Linked DNA regions of Homo sapiens: region 2 is linked to region 1. The links come from fine-mapping of genetic effects on gene expression. Tissue or cell type: whole blood. Region 1 holds a variant in brackets; the other region holds the start of a gene. All regions are shown on one strand. Distances are from middle to middle.

Region 1 (5,145 bases):
AACAAAAAGTACACCATCGCACTTGAATTTTGTGTATAAGTCACTTTTTGAAATGCGTATATTTAAAGTGTTGCTTGAAAATTCCTTTAAGGCCTGAGTCCATGGCACTTGGCATCCAGAGGGGCCCAGGGCATTCACAGCACACAGGACTAAGCTCGCAGAGCTTGGCTGGGCCACTGTTGTGTTTGGCTTTTCTGTGTGTTTTTGCATGAGCGTTTACATTATTTCATAATTGTGTTTTTGTTATCACAGCAGTGAAAACAAAGCTGTCTTCAGACTCAAGTTCTTGTGGGACTAAATCAGCAAAGGACAGAAGGTGGAAACTGAGGAAGATGTTGCTGGAGGCGGGGCCCTTCCAGTGGAGTTAGCCAGGGTCACCTGCGGAGCCCTGCAGGTCCCAGGCTGCTGTGCTCATGTACTGAATAGTATTTCTGGGAAGGCTACCCAGACTTTGATGCAGCTTTCAAACAAAAAGTTAACAGTCTTGAGTGGCTTCTCTGTTTTCTCAGTGCACCTGTTCCTCGATCAGGTAGTGCTGCTGGCTCAGGCCCCGACTGCCTCTGGTTCCACACAAGAAAGCTGGCATTCCTCTTGAGTGAAGTCCCAAGTGCAGACAAATTTAGTAGCAAACAGACTGATCTCAAAAACTCCTACTGGTCACAGAATAATGACTTGTTTGAATTAAGAAGAAATGATTCAAGAACTCAGTTAAAAGCAATAATAATTTTATATAATGATTTTACATGAGTTTAAAATGGTGAACCTTTTTCTTTAACCTTTAAAAATATCCATGCTTTCATTTAAGTCAAATAATAAACATATTACACGTGTGCTTCAGGCCTCCTGGTTTACCTGGTACTTTCCACACCATTCTCTCACTTAATCCTCCATGAACATCCATACATAACCTGGATGTTCATTTGCTCTCACTTTATCCTTGCAAAACCATCTGGAATTTCTCCCCTGGTGCTTCCAAGGAGATCATAATTATAACGTAGATCCTGGAAAAGACACCTCCCAACGAGGTGACATTTGTGACCCCTTGGATCAAGGTCAGCCCTTACAGTATGCTATTTAAGTACTGAAACACAGTTTCCTGCAAAACCTTCCAAGTCAATATACACATCTGTTGCTTCAAATCATTTAAACCGCCCTGTAAATGTAGCCAAATGTCCTGTTTTAGTGGGCTCTGGCTTGCCCCCAGCAGGGGTGGCTGCAGTAGTTAGTTGGGGTCCCCTTGGTCCAGGTTTTTAATTTGCAGCAGTATTGGAAGGGTTATTTAATATAGGAGTTTTAAATACTATAGACAGCAGAATGAGGACGGTGTTATTGTGCAAATATTACTGGTGAAGAAACTTGGTTAATTCCCACCATCACACCCCTAGGAAGTGACAGAATCACAGCTCTAAACAGGTGGGTGTTCTGCTTCCAAACCCAGGGCTCTCGGATCAGCCATGAGAACATGAGGAGTTCAGCTCTTCCCAGCCATGACTCCCAATCACCTACCCGCAGGGGCCTTTGATAATAATCCTCCAAGTCCTGAGCGTGAAGTAATTTCTATATTTGCACATGAATTTTAGGTCAAGTGGTATAATAGGATTCGCAGGGTGGTCAAACGCCAGAGCTGGAGCTCGGCTGTCGGGGCTGGACCCTGGATCTGCTGCTACCAGCTCCCTGACCTTGTCTGAGTGGCTGCCGTCTTTGAATTTCAGGTTTCTCAAATGTCTAATGGCATAAAACAAGATAATGCATAGAGGTGGTCTTGTGGGGTGCTGGGCCCATAGTGAATGCTCCCTATGCATCATTGAAGGCGATTCTTACTACTCTTGTCACGTAACACTTCAAACTTGCACTGGTGGTTTGCATGCAATTGACATGTAAAAGCACATCTGATTGCTTGGATCGTAGCTGAAGTCAAGTCCTGGTGCTTTTTTTGGCCTTTGCCGCTGTCTAGCATGGTCCTCAGTAGATGTTTGCATTATGGAATATGAAACCAGGAGCCCACTGAGTGTCCTACAGGCTGTTAGTTCCGGAGTTGCTGTACCAGGTGATTTCTTGGATACTTCTTGGTTCTAACTTCAGTTTCATGTTTATTGAAGACTGGCCAGACACTTAGTCCTTTAAAGCTGCTCCACTCAATCTGAACCTACCTTTAACGCACTGTATTTCCCATGCCTGCCTCCACTCTGTATCTCCCACCAGATAGCAATCAACTCCCTGAAAAGACAAAAACTGTGTCACGGTGTCTTCAGAGCTGAGCCTGCTAACTGGTGTGTCGTAAGCACTAAAATACACTTTTATTGAATAAATGCCGTTGACAAATGGAAGTTAGGTAAGCCTTCTAATTCCCATTTTGTTTCACCTATGTATATATTAAGACCACTGTATATTAAAAGTCTAATACAAAAATCTACTATGTTAAATGATAATATAATAATCTATTCCATCAATATAAGTACCATATTTATTGAATACCTACTGTTTGCCAGTCAAGGCTATGCCAATGAAGCAGAGAATTAAAAAGATAAACCGCTGCCTTGTGCAGTGGTGTGCGGACTGTCGAGGAGACGGACAGAAGCAGTGGTTACCGTGCTGGCGTGAGCCAGAAGTTTCCTGCCCTCTTGTCACTTCTGGGGTCTAGAAAAGTAGCACAAAAATGCATTATGCAAATGCAATATTTGGTGAAACTCACTAGGTGACATTATACTAAGAAATAAAACCAAAGCTCATCTTGGTTTCAGTTAGGCCTCAGCCCCGCTGAAGTCTCGCCGGTATTTTTCTGCCCTGGATACAGTGGAGACAGGCTTCAGCCACCTCACAAGCTTGCTGGACAACGGGCTTTTCTTCCTCTGTCTTCTTCAGGACTGTGAGTGCCTGA[C/A]GGGCAGGAGCTGCACCCGTCACCTTGCTGTCCTCGCTGTTACCACAGGGCCACATCAGTGAACACAGGCTCTACTGAGGCGGCAGCCTCCCCGTAGCTTGTATTCTTGCAAAGAAGTTGAAAACCAAATCAATGCAGTCACAAGACACAGATACATATGGATGCAAATTTGCTGAACTCAGGAACGACCACCAGATTGGCAGGGCTAATTCACCCTCAGTGTTTTGTATTTTTTCCCTAATTATTCTAAAATGATCCTGTTGCTTTATTCCCACAGAACAAGCACTGGCAGACGAGGAACACTATCCCCAGCAGGCCTCGGCTGCCGGCAACGCACCCCTGCCCTCAGAAAGACAGCCTTGCTCTGAATTTATTTTCATAATTACATGAACGTTATCTAAAAAAAACAAAGGACGTGGGAAAGAATAAAGCTTAAAATAAACTTTAAGCTGTGGGAATGCAGGGGGCCAGGCTGGAGAACAGAGAAAGCCAGAGTGAGCTCAGTGTCTCTGTGCTGATCTACTTGGCCAGCAAGAAGGCTGCATACAACAGAGATCTGTGTCCACCAGCCAGAAGTTCAGGACTCAGACACACAATATGCTGACTTTATTCTAGAGCTAATTCATTCCAAAGTATGAGAAACATAGAGAAAAGCCAGCAACTGTTAGCCACACAGGTAGTAACGTTTCTTTCTTAAAGACTAGAGTTATATTTCTTCTATTGTGGTACAACCTCATTGTTTTTACGGCCATATTATCATTTTATTCAGGAATGTTGAAATGCTCTGAAATATCACTTAGTCATTAAAATGTTGATTACTACAACTAAATGACAACATAGAAAAGTGCTTATGATATATCATTTAGAGAAAATTTAGGATACACGACCTTACAAGCACTATGACAGGAGCTGAGTAAAAGTAGACTACGTCAAGAGGCCGGAAAGGAAGACAGAAGGGAAAAGGCCCCGCGCGTCTCCGTGTCAACAGGCCGGAAAGGCAGACAGAAGGGAAAAGGCCCCGCGCGTCTCCACGTCAACAGGCCGGAAAGGCAGACAGAAGGGAAAAGGCCCCGCGCGTCTCCACGTCAACAGGCCGGAAAGGCAGACAGAAGGGAAAAGGCCCCGCGCGTCTCCACGTCAACAGGCCGGAAAGGCAGACAGAAGGGAAAAGGCCCCGCGCGTCTCCACGTCAACAGGCCGGAAAGGCAGACAGAAGGGAAAAGGCCCCGCGCGTCTCCACGTCAACAGGCCGGAAAGGCAGACAGAAGGGAAAAGGCCCCGCGCGTCTCCACGTCAACAGGCCGGAAAGGCAGACAGAAGGGAAAACGCCCCGCGCGTCTCCACGTCAACAGGCCGGAAAGGCAGACAGAAGGGAAAACGCCCCGCGCGTCTCCACGTCAACAGGCCGGAAAGGCAGACAGAAGGGAAAAGGCCCCGCGCGTCTCCACGTCAACAGGCCGGAAAGGCAGACAGAAGGGAAAAGGCCCCGCGCGTCTCCACGTCAACAGGCCGGAAAGGCAGACAGAAGGGAAAAGGCCCCGCGCGTCTCCACGTCAACAGGCCGGAAAGGCAGACAGAAGGGAAAAGGCCCCGCGCGTCTCCACGTCAACAGGCCGGAAAGGCAGACAGAAGGGAAAAGGCCCCGCGCGTCTCCACGTCAACAGGCCGGAAAGGCAGACAGAAGGGAAAACGCCCCGCGCGTCTCCACGTCAACAGGCCGGAAAGGCAGACAGAAGGGAAAAGGCCCCGCGCGTCTCCACGTCAACAGGCCGGAAAGGCAGACAGAAGGGAAAAGGCCCCGCGCGTCTCCACGTCAACAGGCCGGAAAGGCAGACAGAAGGGAAAAGGCCCCGCGCGTTTCCACGTCAACAGGCCGGAAAGGCAGACAGAAGGGAAAAGGCTCCGCGCGTTTCCATGTCAACAGGCCGGAAAGGAAGACAGAAGGGAAAACGCTCCGCGTGTTTCCATGTCAAGAGGCCGGAAAGGCAGACAGAAGGGAAAAGGCCCCGCGCGTTTCTGTGTCCAGAGGCCGGAAAGGCAGACAGAAGGGAAAAGGCCCTGCGCGTTTCTGTGTTCTGTTACGGGGCTGGGGTGTGCAGTCAGGGTTTTCCTTTCCAACACTTTATATCATGGCTTATTTTCTTAATATTAGTAAAAACACATTAAAAATGAGTTCAAGTAGAAATTAATAGAGTAAGAATACATAACCTGGATGTTCATTTGCTCTCACTTTATCCTTGCAAAACCATCTGGAATTTCTCCCCTGG
Region 2 (5,145 bases), 64 kb before region 1:
TTTCATCATTCAGCCTTCAATGAGTCTTAAAAATCAAATGATGCCCACTACCAATGTGAAACAAGGTAAGCCTTCTAATTCGTCTTTCACAGAAGTTAACTTCTACAAAACCTAGTCAGCGTTTATCATATATTGTCCTAAAGCTGAAAACAAAATGAAAAATAAGCCACAGTTATTGCCATCGACAAAATTAAACTCAGCTGGGATTTCAACAGACTATCAAATAATTATAGTAAAATTTGTGTAATAAAAGATGTCGATAAGGAATCACACCTTTTCTGTATTACATCTTTTACTATATTACACAAATTATAGTAAAATTTGTGTAATAAAAGATGTCGATAAGGAAGCAACTCATGATCTGGGAAAGCAAAGGAGGAAATATTTAGGTTTGACTTTATAAAATAAAAAGGCTTTCCAGGCAAAATGCATAATGGGCACCCAGCGATGAAGGCTCAGTAAGCATGTGAAGTGCTACCGAACAACGAAAGGTTCTGGAAGGCAGTGTCCCGAGGGTGTGAGCAGGAAAAGGTACAGGAGATAAAGTGAGGAGTCTGTAAAAATAAACAGAAACTGCAGGAAATGCAAACTCACAGAAGGTTTTAAGTAACCGGACTACTGACAATTTAGGCCTTCCTCTCAGGGTGGAGGCACCGAGGAATATAACCTTGTAGTGCTACACCAAAGGAAGATCCCTGAAGACCAAACGGAAAATAAATTATGTTTGAAGTAAGGCAAGCTAAGTGTTGAAATTCTAGGAGTGAAAATAATTTAAGCTGGAAAGTTCCTGAAAAGCCATTAATAAAATACACTTTCATTTTTCATGGGCCAAAGTTATATAGGGACCTCCAGGTCTCCTTTGCTTGGCTTTTACAATCAAGAAACCCGAAACCGTAAAACTTCATCTCCCTTTAACTCAGATCCCTATCTAAGCATGGGCTAAGGAAACTAGCAAACAAAACAATGTTGTCATAGGACTCAGGAGGCCCCTAAGAGACCACATCAGTCCGACAACCTCCAGGCCTACCTGGGCCCATTGGAGGGGAACGAGAGGGATTCTAGTAGTCGCAAAGAAAGTACCTTGGCTTGTAGGGGCTGTGGCTGCAGATGCCAAGAGCCCCGGATATATGGCAGGCGCGAGGGGACCCAGGTTTAGCGGGCAGGCTGGGCGGGTGCACGGGGCGGATGGGGAACAGGGGCGCTGCGGCACACTCCTAGAACACCCTAGGCCTCCCAGTCCCTGGCCTCCTCCCCCTCATGGTTCCTAGGCCGGCGGCACAACCTACAGCGCACAAGCCCGATCCAACTCTCCAGAGGACGTCAGAACATGAGTAAGTCGGCGCCCTCTTACCCAGACACACAAACAGCACGGACTTGGTAGCCTGTTCCGCCATCTTCCCGCGCGCAGAGGCGCCGAGACACCGCGGCGTTCCGCACGCCGACGCGGCGCAGGCGCACTGCCACCCTCTTGCCCCGCGCGCCTGCGCAGTCCCGCACCAACGCCAACAGGGCAGCGCGTGTGAGAGCCACGCCTGCGCAATCGGCTCCAGTGCGCCTGCGGAGGCGGTCCTATGACGGTAGTAGGACGGGCGGGGAGGGTCCGCGGGTCACCTGCAGGGACTGGGCCGCCGTTCACCTGCAGGGGCGGGGCTGCAGGTTGTCCGGAGGAGGAGGAGCTGCGGGGGTGGGGTCACCTGGAGGGAGTAGGGCCGCGGAAGGCGAGGGGGTGTGTGTGTGTGGTGGCGGGGGTTGGCGGGGGGGAGTCACCTGGAGGGGGCGGGGCTGCGGGTCGCTTGGAGGGGAAGGAGCCGCGGGAGGTAAAGGTTACCTATAGGGGACGGGGCCGCAGGAGAGGGGTACCTGGAGGAGGAAGGGCCGCGGGTCACCTGCAGGGCGGGCTCAGGCCTCGCGGCTCCGCGGGCCGCCCACCTGGGTTGGGGCACAGCGCGAGTCTCGCGCACGTGGCGGGCTGTGGTGCCTGTCGTTCGAGTTCGCATAGAGGGGCTGGGCGGGTCACGCGGGGAACCTGCCTTGAGCCCCGCGGGGTCCACGCCGGACCAGGGCGGCCTTGGGCCTGGGCGCTCCCTGAGACCCCCACCCCCAACACCGTGCTTGGAGCCGCCGCGGGGCTCTGGGCTTTTCGATCTTGAGGACGGGGCGGTTCCGAAGTCCCTGAGGGCGAAGGCCTGAGCGCGGCCCGGCGGGCGCGTGGTTTTTGTCCCGCGAAACGTACACGGCGGGTGTTTTGCGCCGCCTCCTTCGTCACCTGCCGCAGGTACGCCCTCGCTGGGGCCTCCTTGTCCGCGGGGCGGGGCAGCGCGCCTTCCTCTTCCTGGGCAGCCTCGGGACGGGGCGCCGCGGCCGGGCGGGCAGCAGTGAGTACCCGGGGACCCACCTGTCCGGCAGCACCCTCCCCTCTCAAGAGCTGGGCGGTGGTGGGAGGAGGAGGACGGGAAAACCGGCGATGCCTCTGGGGTTTCTAGGTCGCGCGTCTGTTAACCGCAAACCGCCCAAAGTTAAGATAGAGCAGCTTCCAGGACTTTCTTGACCACAGCGATTTTGATTGAAGTTTAGCCACCGTCTTTTCCATTTTTAGAAAAGCTATTCCGAAGTTTGGAATGATGACGATGGTCGTGTTATTTTTAACTTCCTGATATTTGAACGGCGAGGTGTCAGCGACCATCCTTCCGTTCCACAGAAGCGTCTCTGAAGTTTGGGTCGAATGCGCGCGCTTGGAATGTGCGTGGAACCCGCGGCAGGCGCGGGGAGGAGGCCTTGGCTAGGGCGCCGGCGAGGTTCGAGTTTGCCAGCCCCCCAACCTGGAAGAGAAGGGCCAGCCCCTCACACCCGGAAGGGAAGGGCCGGTCCCCCCAACACCTGGCGCCGGGGTCGCGGGGCCACAGGGCGAGCGCGGGGTCGCGGCGAGCACGGGTCCTCTCTGATCGCTGGGCCTTGGCGCTGGCTGCTGAGTTTTTCCTTCTTTAAGGAAGTGTGGAACTGGTCTCAATCGGTTGACCACCTTAAGGAAATAGGATTTACACTGTGGACAGAGATGTGTCCTTTACACTTCATTTGAACCAATATGCCCATGCTCCTGTGGAGGCTGAGTTGGAAAGTGACACGAAGCTGCCCCCCCGCAAGAGAGCAGGTGCTCGGTTTCTCTTCTGCTTACAGGAGATGCATGTCCTGATTTCTTGTTCTCCTAGGTGTTTTTATTGAGATGTAGGGAATATCTGAATTCATAACGACTTAGAAAATCTGTACACACAGTTGAGAGAACAGGTCTCGAGGCTAAGGTGCTGTTTACTCCCGTGGGCTGGCCTGTTATTAAAATACTTGTGCAGCGACTGATGTTTACAAATTACTATGTTGGAGGTTAAAATGATCAAAGTGATAACCTCCATCCTGTCTATCATGTTTGAGGAGAATTGGTTATTTGGTTCACTAATGTTCTGTTTAAAGAAAATTTCTGTAAAACTAGTAAATGTTACCCCTCATCTTTTGTAAGTTAAAAAAAAGTTTAAAATAATGTTTGCTCATCAAAAGTGATTTGATACTTTTGTTCTGTTTAGGAAAACTTTATTCTCAAGAGATTTCTCATTCCGCAGAAATAAGGATCTGGCATGTCAACACAAACATAGGAAGTTGAGGCAGTCAAAGGGAAATAACTGCTACCCTGACTCTGCTGAGAGCCTCACAAGTCCCTGTGCACGCCAGCTTGTTTGCCAGTGAGTGGCGTCATGATAAGACAAAATTCTCTGCTCTGAGACCTAAGCACATGAAGTTTTTAAAAAAATTTTCTCTGAGAAGATCCCATTTTTTACTCTAAAAGATCAGACCAGTGTGGCATGTGTGGAACTGCTCTGTACCAAGATCACACTCTTCAGTTGGAGAAGAGGAAGGGCAGGAATAAATAAAGGGCTTTCCTGTCTCCCGAGGGAGCAGAGAAAGCTTTCGCTGTCCTCTTCCTTCCCCAGCCACAGCCTGGGGTTGGGGGACTGGAAACAAGCTCAGGCTAGCACTTGATGTTCAGACGGTAGTCTGAAAGTTTGACTAGGGAGTTAATGATCTGACCAGAGAGACAGGTTTTTATTTTGAGAACTGACAAGCTTTGTGTCCTTAAAACAAAGGAAGTAGTTAAACCAAGGCCCCAGAAAGGTAAGAATTGACTTAAGAAACAAAGGCCATAGTTGTCAAGCAGTGGAGTTCAAAATGCAGTTTTGTTAATAAAAGTAGCTTAAAGCAACATTTGAAAGCCTCTCTAAAGATTAGATACATACACTTTCTTTTGGCTAAGATTTCTTTAGTTTATTCTAAATATACCTTTAGCAGCATTCAAGTTCCTTTGATCTTAGATGGAATTTTATCAGTTTAATGAGTTAACCTCCATTTCACATAAAGTATAAGGTTTAATAATTTGATTAATATGTAATCAGTAAGAACTTGGAAAACCAAATTTAGTAAGCTTGCTTTCCTGTAAGTATTCCTTTCATAATTAGAGTCCATTGAAGAAAATAATATAAGGGAAGCAAAAGTTTGGGAATCTGAACTCTGGTAAGGAAAGTGGTGGAGAGGGGCCCTTGGGTCTTCTTGCTTTCATTCCTGACCCTCCGTGTACAACTAGATTGGAAACCGTAGTCAGCTTTGTCACCTCAGGTGGCAATTTACTCCGAGTAGGATTCTCATGTCCCTGTTTGTCCCCAGTGACTCTAGCATTGAGTTTATAGAACTGCGATCAATACCTAAAATTATTTCCAGATCTTAAGCTGATTTATGCTTTTGAGGTTTCCAAAGTAAAAATTGTCTTTCCGGTATTTTATAAGACCTTCTAATTTAAAAAAAAAATGTGTTACTATGAAAATTTAAAACATTTTAACTTTTGTTTTAAAGAAAACTTTATTTGAAAGTTTCTTAGCTTGAGGTTTGGCAGCCACTCTTTTTTTAGAAAAAACTTAAATATTTATAGAGATTTTGCCTGATTCAAGGGACTTAAGACGTTTATGAGAGTGCAGATGCTAACCATGATGTGAGGTTTAAGAGGCTTCATTAGTAATGACCTGTGTCTTCATCAGTATGATAGAATGGGACATCAGCACTCTGATCAGGTCATGCTCTATATGCCTTATGGTACAGCAGAGGAAAAAT

What was found. PIP is the estimated chance that this variant, and not a neighbour inherited with it, causes the effect.
Region 2: it holds the start of SH3YL1, and the variant in region 1 is fine-mapped to the expression of SH3YL1 in whole blood (INTERVAL, PIP 0.98).

Annotation. Positions count from the first base shown.
Region 1 is chr2:197,236-202,380 of GRCh38, reverse strand. No RefSeq gene overlaps it. Among named protein-coding and RNA genes, the nearest start is that of SH3YL1, 64 kb to the left of the region's middle. RefSeq lists an enhancer at 3,580-4,779. The variant C/A (reference allele first, on the strand shown) is at 2,879.
Region 2 is chr2:261,214-266,358 of GRCh38, reverse strand. It overlaps SH3YL1 (SH3 and SYLF domain containing 1), which reads left to right and starts at 2,327. Exons shown (of 10, transcript NM_015677.4): 1 at 2,327-2,375. The coding sequence starts at 2,375. ACP1 (acid phosphatase 1) reads right to left here and starts at 1,412. Exons shown (of 6, transcript NM_004300.4): 1 at 1,352-1,412. The coding sequence starts at 1,394. RefSeq lists an enhancer at 1,302-1,351 and silencers at 1,702-1,781, 1,852-2,431.